Regions from separate parts of the Homo sapiens genome. Here region 2 is linked to region 1. The links come from fine-mapping of genetic effects on gene expression. Tissue or cell type: whole blood. Region 1 holds a variant in brackets; the other region holds the start of a gene. All regions are shown on one strand. Distances are between the middles of the regions.

Evidence for each region. PIP is the estimated chance that this variant, and not a neighbour inherited with it, causes the effect.
Region 2: CHSY1 starts here. The variant in region 1 is fine-mapped to the expression of CHSY1 in whole blood (INTERVAL, PIP above 0.99).

What each region holds. Positions count from the first base shown.
Region 1 is chr15:101,188,605-101,196,708 of GRCh38, reverse strand. The region is part of intron 2 of CHSY1 (chondroitin sulfate synthase 1); the gene reads left to right. Among named protein-coding and RNA genes, the nearest start is that of LRRK1-AS1, 41 kb to the right of the region's middle. RefSeq lists enhancers at 2,663-3,206, 6,334-7,221. The variant T/A (reference allele first, on the strand shown) is at 4,197.
Region 2 is chr15:101,248,845-101,256,948 of GRCh38, reverse strand. It overlaps CHSY1 (chondroitin sulfate synthase 1), which reads left to right and starts at 4,901. Exons shown (of 3, transcript NM_014918.5): 1 at 4,901-5,812. The coding sequence starts at 5,493. It overlaps LOC107984727 (a long non-coding RNA gene), which reads left to right and starts at 1,015. Exons shown (of 2, transcript XR_001751746.2): 1 at 1,015-1,363; 2 at 1,469-1,589. RefSeq lists silencers at 4,437-4,816, 4,987-5,296, 5,487-5,916.

The DNA of each region.
Region 1 (8,104 bases):
AGGGCATTTACATTTAAATTGTGGCTTTATTGCTGGTGTTGGCTAATCGTCCTATAGTTCGCATAGTGTATATGGTTCCTAGTGTATATAGTTTATAGTCTAGTCATGGATCTCGGGGTGTAATCCCGCTTGGTGGCATTACAGTGCTGTGGCTTCTCTCAAGTTAGTTTGACATGAGTTATACCCTAAGATAATAACAGTGGTTATCACTAGGTAGACAGAATAGGTTTAATGTTTCTTTTTACCTCTCTGAGTTTTCCTGGTTTCTGCCAGTAAACATGGGTTATGCCGTAAACCTTCCCACTTCTGACACCTGGCCTTCACATCAGCATGGGACACCAGAAAGTGCCTGAATAAGAGCCAGCAAAGAAAAATGTTTTCATTTCTTCTAGTGTAATTTATACTTATGGATCTCATGAGAATTACATTGTTTAGTTAGGGTATGCTTATTTTACATATATGTTTTTTTTTTTTTTTTTGAGACTGCTTCTCGCTCTGTCACCCACGCTGGAGTACAGTGCTGTGATCTTGGCTCACTCTGTCTCCCAGGTTCAAGTCATTCTTCCGCCTCAGCTGGAATTACAGGCGCCCTCCACTACACCTGGCTAATTTTTGTATTTTTAGTAGAGACAGGGTTTCACCACGTTAGCCAAGCTGATCTCGAACTCCTGACCTCAAGTGATTCACCTGCCTCAGCCTCCCAAAGTGTTGGGATTACAGGCATGAGCCACTGCTCCTGGTCTTGTATGTCCATTTTTAATATTTATATATAATTTATATTAACTAACTGGGGTGTCGACACTATGTATCTGGAATTTGAATCTATTTGATAGTCTCTCCTGCAATTACCTCCTCCCTGGAGACAGGGTTTTTTTTTTTTTTTTTTGAGACGGAGTCTTGCTGTCACCCAAGCTGGAGTGCAGTGGCACTATCTCGGCTCACTGCAAGCTCCGCCTCCCAGGTTCACACCATTCTCTCGCCTCAGCCTCCTGAGTAGCTAGGACTACAGGCACCCGCCACCACGCCCGGTTAATTTTGTTTTTGTATTTTTAGTAGAAACAGGGTTTCACCGTGTTAGCTAGTATGGTTTCGATCTCCTGACCTCATGATCTGCCCGTCTCAGCCTCCCAAGGTGCTGGGATTAGAGGCATGGGCCACCACACCCGGCCAGCTTTTAAATAAAAAATGTAATAAAAAGTTTGTAGCTTTCGGTTGACACATGACTTATACCTTTACCATTAGCCTTTAAACTTTCTCACATCTGTGAAATTTTTGTTGTTCTTATAGCTTATAATTTTCATGTCTCTTTTTCTTTGGTTGAAATCCTGACACAAATAGTAGGATAGCTTGGTTTTATTTAGCAGTTAATGTTGTTAACTATTTCAGGAAAATAAGATGATCCAAAATATGATTATTGCTCAGGTGTGATATATGAGTATGTAAGTACTGTATAGTTTGCAAAGTATAATTAGTTTTGTAATCTTATATGTGAATATGTTGCATTAGAAGGAATATTTTTCAAATGTCAGAGTAGGATTATGAGTGATTCCTCCCGTTTCCAGAATTTTATAATAAGTATATATTGTTTTATAATAATAAAGAAGGTTTAAAAATAGTTCATCGTAAGTGATGTAAATGTTTCTACTTGACGGCATTTTAAGAGTCGCGTGGGTTATGGGCGAGCTTATGAAATGCGGTTTGTAAGACTACTTTTCATTCATGAATCCCTCTATTTCATTGTAGTCAGTCTGTTATAAGACATATGTTGTGGAATCTGTTCAAAACCTGGGGAGGAAGTGCATGAGATCTTATCTTCTTGGCATCAGAAGTGTACTCTTGAAAGTAGAATTTTGACTTTTTGAGATGCCACTGTTTATCCTCCCACCCTTCACAGCTCTCCCTGTCTCCCTTCTCCCAACCCAACCCATGCATACAAAAAGTCAGGGTTTGTGATTTAATTTAGAAATAGAGGCAAGATTAGAAAATGGAATTGTGTGGAGACTTGGAGATCATGTAGCATGCAGCAGATCTGTTCTAGGAGGAGTAGGAAGCTCTGGTTGTGAGTGATTGAAGACCACTGCACTGTTCAGAAGCAGCTGTCGCATCCTCTTCCGTTCAGCACCTGATTATTATGTAGCTTTATTTAATGGTGCAAAATACCAAGTAGAGAACAAGGAACATAAGGGCAAAATTAATGGCTGGATAGCTGTTGTGGCTACGTAATTCTGATCTAAAATTAGTTTAGAAATTACAATTGAAAATGCAATTGTGAAATATCATTTTGAAATACTTTAAAATGCTGCCTAGCCTACTGAAATGTTTCTCAGTTGAGGTACCCATGTAAAATGTGTGCGTACACATGGACACACAAACAGGCTAAGAAAGAAGCAGAGGAGTAGAGACATTTAATTAGTTGAGACAGGTTTACCTCCAATGAAATTTTTCTTTTCTTTCAGTTTGTAGCACGTGGGTGGTCTATGTGTTAATGTTAATAATAAAACAGAAGTTACCCATTCTTAGATTACTTAACTCTACTGTCACTAGTGATGGCTTTCCTGCCGAAGGCGCTCCGTAGCTACATGAAGAGGGCACAGAGAAAATTACTTGAAGCTTTCGAGTCACTTTCACTTTTAAAAGATGCTGGTGGCCTTTGGATCCCACTTTGCCCTGGTGCTTGGCCAAGGCCAGGGCATCTGACCGCCCCTGAGCACATGGAGGAAGAAGGTGGTAGAGGGAGGTGTGGAAATCCACGCTGATGGCCCTACCCTTGCTGGTGCCCTCTGTTGCTGGGACTCAGTGCCCCACCTGCTCACCAAGCAGAAGTGATGTCAGAGTGGTCTCCATGGCCAAGAGAGCAGGTTTTGTCAGGCAAGGAAGGAGCGTGAAGATGCACACTCTCCTGGTGTGGAGCATGGTGCTATCCCCAGCGTGTCTTCCTCGGTGCCAGGAGTGTTGGTATTGTGTGCACATTAAATAGAGGACTTTCCCACTCTTCTCTTTACTCTTATGCATTATCTGACCCAAATTTGGGTCCATGGAGTAAACATACTTGGTCAGAAACTGTGAATAGTCATTTCCAGCATTTAAACCTTTCTTGCTGATGACGCCATTAAAATACGCACATGTGCATGCACACAGCGTGACTGCGGCTGGAGAGGAAGGAGCGTTCGCCTGCTCCCGGGCAGCTGGTCAGGCTGGTGGCCCAGCCGTTTATGCTTGCTCCGTGCTCCAGGGTGTGGCCCCTTGCCCAGGGGAAGAAATGAATGTTCTGAAAGAGCACAGCGTATTCTTCAGTCTGCTCCAAGGTTGATTCCCTCTGGAAAGCTTCCCTGGCCCCCTCACTGCTGTCTGGTCTCCCTCAGGTTTTCCCTGCTGGAGAGGCCTTCCCTGACCCAAGGATATGATGCTGCAGCCCTGCCCTCGCTGCTGTCTCCCCAGCTTCGTGGTTCTCCAAAGCTCTCATCCCCGTCTGACACACTCCTTGTTTGTTGCCTGCTTGCCGGACAGGCATTTCTAGTTGTCTTGTCAAGAACCAGCCCGAGAGAGAGCTGAGAGCCAACCTCGGCTTTGCTGTGTGCAGTGGCTGCGGGGTGTGAGCAAGTTGCTGAACGCACAAACTAGAGTATCCCTGAAAGTAAAACGTGCACAGTAACAGAGCTACCTCGTCGGATTACACCAGTGCATACAGGGTAGGTCCTTGGTATAGCTTCCGAGAGATGTTAGTTGTTAATGTTATTATATAAAATCACATAAATTATTTCACTTCAATGGGAGAGGAGTGGTAATAAGCATTTTTTAAAATTGGGTGCCTCTGAAGGGTGAAAGGGCTGGCTGACAGTTTAAACATGTTGCCTAGAGTTTAGCTAAAAGGATAGTTGAATGATTGTGCAGGGAGGTAGGTTATTTTGGAAATACATGTAGGATGATTACTTTCAGCTATGACATCTTAACCTTTGGATAAATGTTTATTAAGGGAATACATCAATGCCAGGCTCTGCTGTGTGCTGTGAGACCTGCCTTCAAGGCACCTCTGTGGAGCCACGAGGGAGGCGTTTAGAACTCTGAATTCTGAGAATTCTAGTTGATCCTCTTTGAAGGATGCTTTTCCTCTCGTATTTCTGAAGATATTGATCTTCTGTATTTGAAAGTCCCCTTGTCTTAGCTCTTGTTGCCATATTGTTTGGGAGTGGGGGGAG[T/A]TGGGGTTAAGGTTGGCTGTCTTGCCTTGGCTGGTCTGCCCCAGACCCCTGCCTGGCTGTCTGGGAATCTGAGGGGTAGGAGGTGGGGGTAGGGATGGGGATGTCTTTTCTGAGCAGGCAAAGGCCCTGTGCAGAGTGTGTGTTCTCTTAGCTCTTGTTTATTGGGCATGACACGTCTCTTCTGTTGTAATGTTTACGTATTGACAGGAGCCACTTACATTGTTGTCTGTGATTAATCTTTTTGTCCTTACCTGTAAACGAGATACAGTATCTACTCATTCATTTATTCAGCAAGTACTTAGAGGGCAATTACTCAGTGCTTGGCACCTAGAACAAAATGAGTTTTGCTCTCAAGGAGTTTAAAATTGTGAGGATTAAATGAGTGTGTTGAGAGAGAGAGAAGTATGGTATCTCATAGCAGATGCTTAAAAATATTTCTCTCTTCTTTTTGTATAGGGCTTTTTAGTTTAGAATACTGTGTTAAAGAACAAACAATCCTACTCATTGTTAATTATTAATTACTTGCATTTTATTTCCACCTACCTCTTTCCACAAAGGATCTGAAGTTTAGTGTATTTTATATATTTCTGTAAATTTTTTTTTTTTGCTTAGAGCAGTGAGTAGATAGATGGATGAAGGAAGGAAAATGAATGAATTTATTATAAATGAGAAGCCAGAGAAAAAGTACTACCAGTTTCCCCTACAATCTACTTAACATAGATAATTTGAGGATGTTTTTTCCCTAATAGGTTGCTTTAAAAAAAAATTAAGTTTTTTGGAGGAGCTTTAGGTTCACAGCGAAATTGAGTGGAATGTGCAGAGATTTCCCAAGTGGCGCCTGCCCCTACACGTGCACAGTCTCCCCCAATATGGACACCTTGTACCAGAGTGGTGGTACCTTTGTTACAATTGGTGAACCTACAGTGACATATCATTATCACCCGAAGTCCACAGTTTACAATAGGAGTCACTCTTGGTGTTGAACATTCTGTGGGTTTAAACAAGTTTATGACAGATACCCTCATATATGTATCATACAGAACAGTTCACTGTCCTAAAAATCCTCTGTGATCTGCCTGGTCATCCTTCCTTCCCCTGTAACCCCTGGCAACCACTCATCTTTTTACTGTCTTCATAGTTTTGCCTTGTTTTGTTTTACAGTGTTATATAGTTGGAATCGTACAGTATGTAGCCTTTTCAGTTTGGCTTCTTTTACTTAGTAACATGCATTTAACTTTCTTCCGTGTCTTTTCATGATTTGATAGTTCATTTTTTAAAAATGCTGAATAGTATTCCATTATCTGAATGTGCCACAGTTTATTCATTCACCAACTGAAGGATATCTTGGTTGCTTCTGAGTTTTGGCAATTATGAACAAAAGTGCTGGAAACGCCCATATGCAGATTTTTGTGTGGACACTAACTTTTCAGCTCTTTTGGGTAAATACCAAGGAGCTCACTTGTTGGATCCTATAAGAGTATGTTTAGTTTTGTAGGAAACTGCCAAACTGTCTTCCTAAGTGCCTGTAGCATTTTGCATTCTCCCCGGCAGTGAGCGAGAGTCCCTCTTGTTCCATGTCCTCACCAGCATTTCGCGTCGCTCCTCTCGGCCCTTCTACTAGGTGTGTCGTGGCATCTCGTTGTTTGAATTTGCATCTCCCTGATGACATATGATGACTTTCACATGCTTTTTTCTACCATCTGTGTAACTTCGGCAAGGTGCTTGTTAAAGCCTTTGGCTACTTTTTAATTGGGTTGTTTTCCTATTTTTGAGTTTAGAAATTCTTTGTATATTTTAGATAAGTCTTATAAGTCTGTGAATATTTTCTTTCAGTCTGTGACTTGTCTTATTCTCTTGGCAGTGTCTTTTGCAGAGCAGAAGTTTTTAACTTTAATTAAGTCCAGTTTATCAATTCTTACATGGAGTGTGTCTTTGGTGTTGTGTCTAGAAAGTCATCACCAAACCCAAGGTTGTCTAGATTTTCTCCTCTGTTTTCTTTAGGAGTTTTGCAGTTTTGCCTTTTGCATTTAGGCCTGTGATCCTGTGAAGGGTAAGGTCTGTGTCTCGTTTCATCTTCCTGCATTTGGATGTCCAGTTGTTCCAGCCCCAAGGGTTGAAAAGCCTGTCACTTCTCCGTGGGATTGCTTTTGTTGGTTGCCTATGCTCTGAAAACTGTTCATATTGCTTCCCTGGGAATTTGACACTATGGAATTTAAAGCTTTACTAGCTTCCCTTCCCCACCCACCCTTCCCCAGAAAAACAAACCCACTCCCTCTTCTTCCCTCAGTCCCCTCTCCAGTGTTTTTCTTACCCTCTTTTTTGAAAGAAAACTTTCAGAATGGTGCCTTTGTGAGGTAGCTGTGAAGTGAGAGTCCCCCCTCAGACTTCATATGAACTGGAGATGGCAGACGTGGAGTCTTCAGCCTCACAGGGGTCGTGCTCAAAACCTAGGGTCCAAACCTGTGGCATTTAACCCCACCGCACTCAACACTGTGTAATGACAGAAACACTGACAGTTCTGAGTGTAACGCATGACCCAAAGCTGGGTTGGGACCCCAGGGCTTCTAGAGCAGTTGCTCTTCCTCCGAGGACTCAAGTGGTGGAGCTGGGCTGCGGGAACCCTTGCTCCCCGCCCACAGCGCCACTGTGCTGTCCCCACTCACCAGGCCTCCACTGTCCCAGCGCCGCTGGAGTCTTTAGGCGGTGGTGGGGGTGGTTGGGTTTTTTAAGTAAGACATTTCTTCATTAAATGCTATACGTTAACACGGCGTTGAATGTCTTTATGTCGAATAAGATTCTACAAAAAGTCAGGTGTAGATGAAAAATATCCTAGAAGGAGGTGAATCTGTAGGTCATATTTGACCCACAGATATACTTTGGCTTGTATTTCTTTTTTCTCTCTTTTCCTTTTCTCTGTCCCTTTCCCTTTCTCTCTCACTTGAACTGGTTGCCAGCACTTCAGTTAGACTTGACACAGAACAGCTGGATTTCTAGCTTCCCTTTAAACCCGGCTGCACTGGGCCTGTGTGGCACGTCCTGGTCCCCCCGAGCTCCATCCCTTCTGGCTTACATCCACCTTGTCCCTGTAAGTTTGTTTTTAATTTTATTTTTGATTTAGTTTGTGCTTTGGCAGTCCCCTAGACTAGAGCTTATATCACGTTCTCGTAGAGACATGTTGGGTCACGTGTGACGCTGGTGTGTGGTCCGTGTTGACTGGAGTGGAGAGGGTGCTGAGAGAGCACGGGCGTGGAGGCCAGAGGGCCATACCTGGTGCTGGGTGGGCCGGGTTTAGAAACACCTTGGGAGAGAAGCCTGGTGGCCGCTTCGTGGCAGGCCCGGGCTGGGACTCTTTCGCCCGCCACGCTCGCCGGCTCGATCTTGTGTTCGCGCTTGTTTCTTCTCTGTACGTGACATTTGGGCTTTCACTGCCTGGTACGGCGCCTTTCACGGGAGCGTTCAGTAAATATTGAGTGCCGTGTGTGCACAGGACCTCATCTGTTTAAAGATGGTTCTGCATGTATTCATCCTGCATCATGCTGCCACGTCTGCCACTTCATTTTTTTTTTGTTAAGGCGATGCCTGGTGCATTCAACTGATTGCCCCAGATCAGATGTTTGTGAAGGGAAGACATGGGAGTTTAGATAGTTTTCGGACTGCAGATAAGGGTCTCCTACCACAGTCTCTGCTGATGATGTAGACATGGAATGTTCAGTTGCAAAATATATTGTTTCAGTTTTATCGCTTTACTTATAGTCTTATGCAGAAGCCTTGAATTACTAGCAACAGCTTTTGTTTTACTTTGCTAAGCTTAATTCTCAAAATTATTTTGAAATGAGTCAGGCTTCTCTAAAAGGTGTTTAGGTTTCAGAATTAGTAACCATTCAGGACTCATTCATAATAATTCTCTT
Region 2 (8,104 bases), 60 kb before region 1:
TTGTGTATTTATCCATTCCCCTATACATGAACACTGGGGTCTGATCTTTTACTATCACAAACAGTGTCGCAGAGAATAACCTCGTTCAAGTGTCATTTTGTACTGGTATGGCTGGAGGACAAATCTCAGAAGCAGGACTGTGGGGTCGAAAGCAAATGCACTTGTAATGTGTAATGTTGACAGTGAGCCACGATCACTCCACCGCACTCCAGCCTGGGTGACAAAGTGAGACCCTGTCTTTAAAAAAATGGAAATAAAAATTCACACTTATATTCAAACAAAACCGCCCTCCCAGTGGGTTTGTATGACTTTGCTCTCCCGCAAGCATGTTGGGAAAGCCTCTATTTCCACAGACTCCTCCGAGTGAATATACATACGGTGATTATTTTGAGTTCCTAGAGAGGCCTTAATTGCCAACTTTGGATAACAACATTTATCACCCATGAGGTGTGCATTAAGAGTGTTTATGACCCTAGCATGGGCTTGATAGCATAACTGGGTGTGAGAAGGATCAATGACCTGGGGCCATTTAGCCATGAGTATTATGGTGACAGTGTTTTCTCTTGCATTGTACTTTCAGGTGTTTGTAGATCCCTATTTCTGCTGCCTCAATTTGTAGCTTAAACCGTCTTCTGCAGCGTGAATGTTTTTCCCAGTTTTACGTTTCATTAGGCCTCCAGTGGGAATCGAATCTGAGCTGCACATCTGGCCCCAGCTGCACTGAGCCCTCAGGTGGCCATGCTGCTGCCCAGCTGTCCAGTGCCTGGGTTCCTACAGGGAGTTCCCTCCTGTGGATAGGAGCTTTGTCTTTGTGCAAACTTCCCAGCTGTGGAAACTCTGGCACCGCTTTAAAGATCAATGCATTTCTTGGCAAGGGATGGGAAAGGCAAACTCCTCTCCACAAGGATTAAGTCTTAACACCAGAAGCCAACTGTCCTCAGCCTCTGCAGTGAGGTTGTCTCCTAAAGAACATTCAGGCTGGTTCCCAGTAGTGCCTGTGCTGGCGGCACCCAGCGTTTTCTAGTTAGGAAGATCACATCCCATCTGGCTGGTCCACATGGTTATACTGAACTTAAATCTCTTTTGTGTCTCTATCGTACACATGAAAGCTCACACACACACACACACACACACACACACACACAGTGTGAGAAGCACTCACACTGACTCAGCGTCTGATGGAAACGGTGTACACAGCTGATAAGCACTGAAGGACTTTGCAGAACACCCAGGGCTGGAATAGGCCAGTGTGTGAAACCAGAACGTGAGCCCTGCTCACTTGCCCTTTCCTGCATCTGACTGGAAATGCTACAAACAGAAGGAAATAGTGAGCGAAATTAACAACCTCATGAGGATCTTGCTTGTAAGTTTAATAGCAGCATTCATAATGAAGCAGTGTTTTATTGGGTTAACAGAGGTTAAGTGGCAATATTAGTAAAGTGGTCATTATAGATTTTCTTCTTTGCAGGCAGTGAACAGAACCTTCTGAAAGGATGGATGATTATAACTCCTCAGCATTCACTGTTTCTTAAAACAGGCCTTTCTGAAAGTTTTTTTTCTTTAATAAAAATTACCACTTTTTCCAAGGACCCCTGTTTGAGGCGTGAGTGGAGAGGCTTCATCTTTAAAGAAGCTCTAACAGGGAACTCTGTCGGTCGTTTGAGGCTTGCTGCCAACAAACAATTGAGGTATTTACCAAGGGTTTCCAAGAAATTGCTGCAAATTATATGAAATGTTATACTGGTAACAGACGTTCAATGTATTAGCAACAGAAAAGAAATGTGAAGTGTGTGGGAACAAAGTTGCCATCTGTGAGAAAATGCTCAGTAAGGTAGGTGGCGATGAACTTTAATAATGTGTCATAAAGAGTCACACTCATGAACACAGAAGGGAAGTTAAGTGATCTGGGATTTTTGAACACATTTCTGAATACTGGTCTGGAATCACTATGGAGGACCGTTTAACGTGATCCAGCAGAAAGACTCATTTGGAGACAGAGCCGGACTCCCGGAGCCCCTCCAGGTGGAACTCACTCCACGCAGAGCTCAGACTCGGTCCCACACTCCTGATCCCTGATCCATCACAGCCCACCTCTTGGGCCACTCCTGTGCCATTGGGACTTTCATGGAATAACTACAGTTAAGGGCTTCCTTACAAGTGTTCCTGGTAACAGTTAATACCTCCCCTTCTTTTATGATGAGAAAAATGGTCAATGATTCCCTCAACAGAGAAGGCCAGTAGCACAGTGAAATCAAGAAGCCCGGAACATGAAAAGTCTTTCCTCAGCTCCCTGCAGTGAAATCCCTATAAATGCGAATCACCCTGCCTACTCCTTACCTTTAAAAATTACTTAGGGTGAGGGGGCTTTAGGATGAGGACAGCCTTGGCCTCCAGGGGGCTGTGGGGAAGGACGCATGTGTGTGCATTGGGGGCAGATGTTCCAGACCCTCGTTGTCCTCCCTGGCTCCTTGCTGGTATTGACTAGTGGGGCTGGGCATGGGACAGGCCTTCATACTGGGGGTACCAGTCCTGTCCAGCTGTTTGGGTCTCTGGCTGTCACTGAAGTTCTTGATTCCAGGTATTTGCTACTGGCTGTGAAATCCCCACTTAGGATAGCCTTGTCTCCTGAGCCAGGCCCCTTACTGGGACACTTTTGGATTCTTCCCCAGGAGAACTGCCTCAGCTCAACAATCCAGCTGCTCCTTCCAGATGTGCTAGAGCTTGCCCTCCTGCTCCTAGGCTGCATGCCGGAATTGGTCCCTGCCCCTGGCAGACTTCTACAGGACCTCAGTTTCTCTCTTCTCCTTCCAACCCTCTCTTGGCCTGGCATATCCCTCTTCTCCCAGAGGGAGTTCCCGTATGTCTTACTCTCCTTCTCCAGGGAATTGTAAGCCCTCAGGCTCAGCCTTTACAAAGAAAAGGGTATCCTTTCTACATTACGAAAGACCCCCATTAAGCCTGCAGGTGAGACAGGTGAGACTGTTAACCTAGGAACTGAGGGACAACTAGGAACCAGGATATTGAGGAGGACAAAATATTTGGCATCCTCAGAATATTATTCCCATCAGATATTTATATACTTTTTTTTTTTTTTTCCTTGAGACGGAGTTTCGCTGTTGTCGCCCAGGCTGCAGTGCAATGCAATGGCACGATCTCGGCTCACAGCAACCTCCACCTCCCGGGTTCAAGCGATTCTCCTGCCTCAGCCTCCCGAGTAGCTGGGATTACAGGCATGCACCACCACCCCCGGCTAATTTTGTATTTTTAGTAGAGTCGGGGTTTCTCCATGTTGGTCAGGTTGGTCTCGAACTCCTGACCTCAGGCGATCCGCCCGCCTCAGCCTCCCAGAGTGCTGGGTTTACAGGCGTGAGCCACCGCGCCCGGCCAGCTTTTCACTGGACACTAGTTTCGAAGAAAACTAGGTAAGTCTAAAGCAGGTTAGAAAATACTGAAATCGTTGAATATGCTACAAAATTGAACATCTGAATCTGGCCAGATTCGTACTTCATGTAAATCACTGTGAATGATGGGGCTGCTGAATTTGGGGGATCTGGTGACTCCTCGGCATTTGTGGTTTATGGTCTTAGTGGAAACCTTTTTCGATGGTTTTCGAGCCTGTAATTCATGGTTGTATGTTCTGTATTTTTCCCAAGACCACTGCTGGAATCCTGTATTCACTGCATAATGAGTATTTTATTTTTAGATGTGGATCACCCCTTAGGGAGGGGCTCTGTGGGAAGGTAGGTAATGAACTATTTTTAATATAAATCACAAGTGTCAAAGAAAGTGGTAATATCCAAAGAATAAACAAGAGTGACCACCATTCAGGTGCCGAGAAGGTATCTGAAGCTCCCACAGGCATTTTAAACTGTGTGATAGTATTTCAACCATTTGGTCAACAATGAAGAAAGATCCAAGGATTGCCCCAGGCATGTGTTTATTTGATTCAATGCAGGTAACTTCTCAGGCCCAGGGAAACACTTTGCCCTTCAAAAGTTTCATTAGAAAACCCCAATATACTGGTGACTAAGTAACAAGACTGAAACTCTACACAAACTTTCGTTGTATGGAGACCTCCGCTTTTGCTGCCTTAGCTGAAGTATTGCAGAGGAAATGTATAAAACTTAAAATCCAGAGTAGAGGATCTGGGACCCAAAATCCGTCTTTAGAAATCCACGGCACTTTTACAGACGGACTATATTAAAGTAGGGACAAAGTCCCAGGCTGGGGGTACTAGCCGGCTATCTGCCCACACAGTATGTAAATGAAAGTAGGGTTTACCATCCAGGGCATTAACTTCATTTTCCTTGTCTTCGAGATCCATTAAATGCTAGTACTGTATGAGAAGCGTGGACCTTAAGTATTAAAGATGGCTTTTTCTTCTTCTTCTTCTTATTTAGCGTAGAAACTAGCAACAGGGAACAAGGTAACTGAATTCACGGTCCACTCGCAGGCGCGCACGTCCCCAGGGCTCCGGGACGGCTGTTCCCTGCGTGCGGCCGCGGGACTGCGGACAAAGCTGCAGTGTGGTCGGGAGCGCGGGGCCGGGAGCGCGGGGCCGGCCCGGCGGCAGGAAGGGCGTGGCCGTGGGGTGCAGCGAGGACGGCCCGTGCGGGAGGAACGTGCGCAGCGTGGAGTCTGGGGGCCGAGAAGCCCCCACTGCAAGGCTGGCTCCCGAGATTCGCGCCCGGGCGCCGCGGTGCGGGAAGCGGCCGTCCTCGCGGGGACGCCCTTGCGCCGGGTGCTAGGTGCGGATCACGGGCAGCTCCGGCCCCGCGGGCGCCGGGCGGGGGCCCACGCCCCCTCCGCCCGCCAGCTCCAGTCGCAGACCGCGCGGGCGGGGCGCCCGAGAGGGCTTTTTTTTTTTTTGGTCAAACTTCGGCCACGTGAACCGCCCCTCATTCACTTTTGCGCCAATCGCGCGGCGCGGACGGATCCCGAGAGGGGCCACGGCTCGCCGCCGGCGGGGCCACTTCATAACGCGCCGTGCGTGACGTGAGGGGCTCCTGTTGCAATGGCGAGCTAAGCCGGAGGATGTGCAGCTGCGGCGGCGGCGCCGGCTACGAAGAGGACGGGGACAGGCGCCGTGCGAACCGAGCCCAGCCAGCCGGAGGACGCGGGCAGGGCGGGACGGGAGCCCGGACTCGTCTGCCGCCGCCGTCGTCGCCGTCGTGCCGGCCCCGCGTCCCCGCGCGCGAGCGGGAGGAGCCGCCGCCACCTCGCGCCCGAGCCGCCGCTAGCGCGCGCCGGGCATGGTCCCCTCTTAAAGGCGCAGGCCGCGGCGGCGGGGGCGGGCGTGCGGAACAAAGCGCCGGCGCGGGGCCTGCGGGCGGCTCGGGGGCCGCGATGGGCGCGGCGGGCCCGCGGCGGCGGCGGCGCTGCCCGGGCCGGGCCTCGCGGCGCTAGGGCGGGCTGGCCTCCGCGGGCGGGGGCAGCGGGCTGAGGGCGCGCGGAGCCTGCGGCGGCGGCCCGGCGGGCGGAGCGGCGCGGGCATGGCCGCGCGCGGCCGGCGCGCCTGGCTCAGCGTGCTGCTCGGGCTCGTCCTGGGCTTCGTGCTGGCCTCGCGGCTCGTCCTGCCCCGGGCTTCCGAGCTGAAGCGAGCGGGCCCACGGCGCCGCGCCAGCCCCGAGGGCTGCCGGTCCGGGCAGGCGGCGGCTTCCCAGGCCGGCGGGGCGCGCGGCGATGCGCGCGGGGCGCAGCTCTGGCCGCCCGGCTCGGACCCAGATGGCGGCCCGCGCGACAGGAACTTTCTCTTCGTGGGAGTCATGACCGCCCAGAAATACCTGCAGACTCGGGCCGTGGCCGCCTACAGGTGAGCCCCTGCTCCCCGGGCACCGCCTCCTGCGTCCGGCATCCCGGCGGCCGGCATCCCGGGTGCTCTCCTGGCTCTCGCCTCCGCCCGCTTCCTAGGCCCTTCTTGGGCTTCCGGCGGGATCGGGTTGCCTCTCGGGAGACGCCGGGCCGAGGGAGAAAAGATCAGAGGCGGGATGGTGAGCGCGGCGCTCAGGAACATGGCCTTTGGGGTCAGATGGACTAGTGTGGCCTCGCTGGGTGTACCTCTCACCCTGATGAAGGCACTTTAGCCTTTGCAAATCGAAGCTTCTCGTTAGAAGGGCCCGACAGATCGGGTCTCCCTCATAATGTTGGAAAACTCATAGCACAGTACCTGATAGTGGAGGCAGTTGGGGCTGATACTGGATTCCCTAAAATGTGCACCTTTGTCCTTGCAAAGCTGGAGCCCGTGTACGTTAATCTAGTTCTAGAACCTTTCCACATCATACTCTCACATTTCGCAGTTGGAGGCACTCCTATAAATGAAAGAGAATGCCCGCAGCATATTGGACCACACCAGTCTGTTGAGTACAGAGAGAGAGAACCTTGGGGAAAAGCAGTTCTTGGCCCTTGGTAGATTCAGTGGAAAACTGCATTCTGGTGTTAATTAGTTCAGCTTGGTGGTGTATGCATGTTATCCAGTAACTGGGCTCTAGTTGGCCAAATGAGTCATAAAAGCAGCTGGAATTGTGTTCAGGTTTAACAAAGGGATTAGCCAATGTAGTCTCTAGAAGGGAGATGATTTTGGAATGGCTGGCATGGTTAGAATCAGATTTGTATTGGAGTGAATTTGAAGTTGGAGAGGGTTGTAGACTCGATAAAGGGATTTGATGGAAACCCTATATGTGTGAAGTATAGAGACACTTACTGTATGGATAAAGTTTGGGTCTTATCCAGCCACAGAGCAAACCAATGTGGGGAATGGTTTTAGAGCATCAGTTGTCTGGTAATGAAATTTCAGAGCAGCCAGTGCTGAGCCAGGCTAAGCTGGTTGCTGTTTGTTCTTATAACCAATACCTTTACACTTCAGTTTTTAAATGCAGTCTTGGTCAGATTTTTCAGGCACTAGATGTTGTGAGGGGAAAAGCATATATGGTCTCCCTTGCCTTTAAGGGAGAAAGTAAAGGACTGAGAAAGAAGGTGAAAGTGGTCTTCAGTGACTGCCCCTTGAATGGCTTGATCCCCATTCCTGCACATTTCCATTAGGGTCCTGCTTAAGTCCAGAACCCACATTCCGCCAGGAAGGGTCCTGAGTGGCTTGAAAAGCTTAGAATGCAGGTATTGTAAATACAGACTAATGCAGGCGGGGCGCCGTGGCTCACGCCTGTAATTCTAGCACTTTGGGAGGCCGAGGCGGGCGGATCGCCTGAGGTCAGGAGTTCGACACCAGCCTGACCAATATGGTGAAACCCCGTCTCTACTCAAGAGTACAAAAATTAGCCGGGTGTGGTGGCGTGCACCTGTAGTCCCAGCCACTCAGGAGGCTGAGGCAGGAGAATCGCTTGAACCCAGGAGGCGGAGGTTGCAATGAGCCAAGATCATGCCACTGCACTCCAGCCTGGGCTACAGAGTGAGACTCCATCTCAAAAAAAAAAAAAAAAAAAAATTCTATCTATCGATCGATAGATAGAGATACATAGACTAGTGCAGTGATTTGGGAACCAGCCTATCAGGATCTCTCCCAGATCTACCTTGCATTACCTGAGGTTTTATGGGATTTTTTTTTTTTTTTTGACCAGAGAAACAGCCGTATCGGAAATCGAGGATGAGCCATATAGATTATTTACAGCATGGTTTTGAAAGTAAATCCGCATGACTCTAGTGTGGTGATAGACCATGTGAAATCACAGTTTTGGGGACAGTTAACAAACCAGTTAGTACAAACAGTAAATTAGGTAACTCCCTTATCTCCCCCATGCCCCCTGAACCAAATACATTTTCATGGTTACGGTATCAATATATTCAAATCAGTGGGGGGCCTAATGCACCAGCAATACTCAGAAAATGTAATGCAGGCCGGGCGCGGTGGCTCACGCCTGTCATCCCAGCACTTTGGGAGGCCGAGGCGGGCGGATCATGAGGTCAGGAGATCAAGACCATCCTGGCTAACACGGTGAAACCCCATCTCTACTGAAAATGCAAAAAAAAAAAAAAAAAAAAAAATTAGCCAGGCTTGGTGGCAGGTGCCTGTAGTCCCAGCTACTCGGGAGGCTGAGGCAGGAGAATGGCGTAAACCCAGGAGGCAGAGGTTGCTGTGACCCGAGATTGCGTC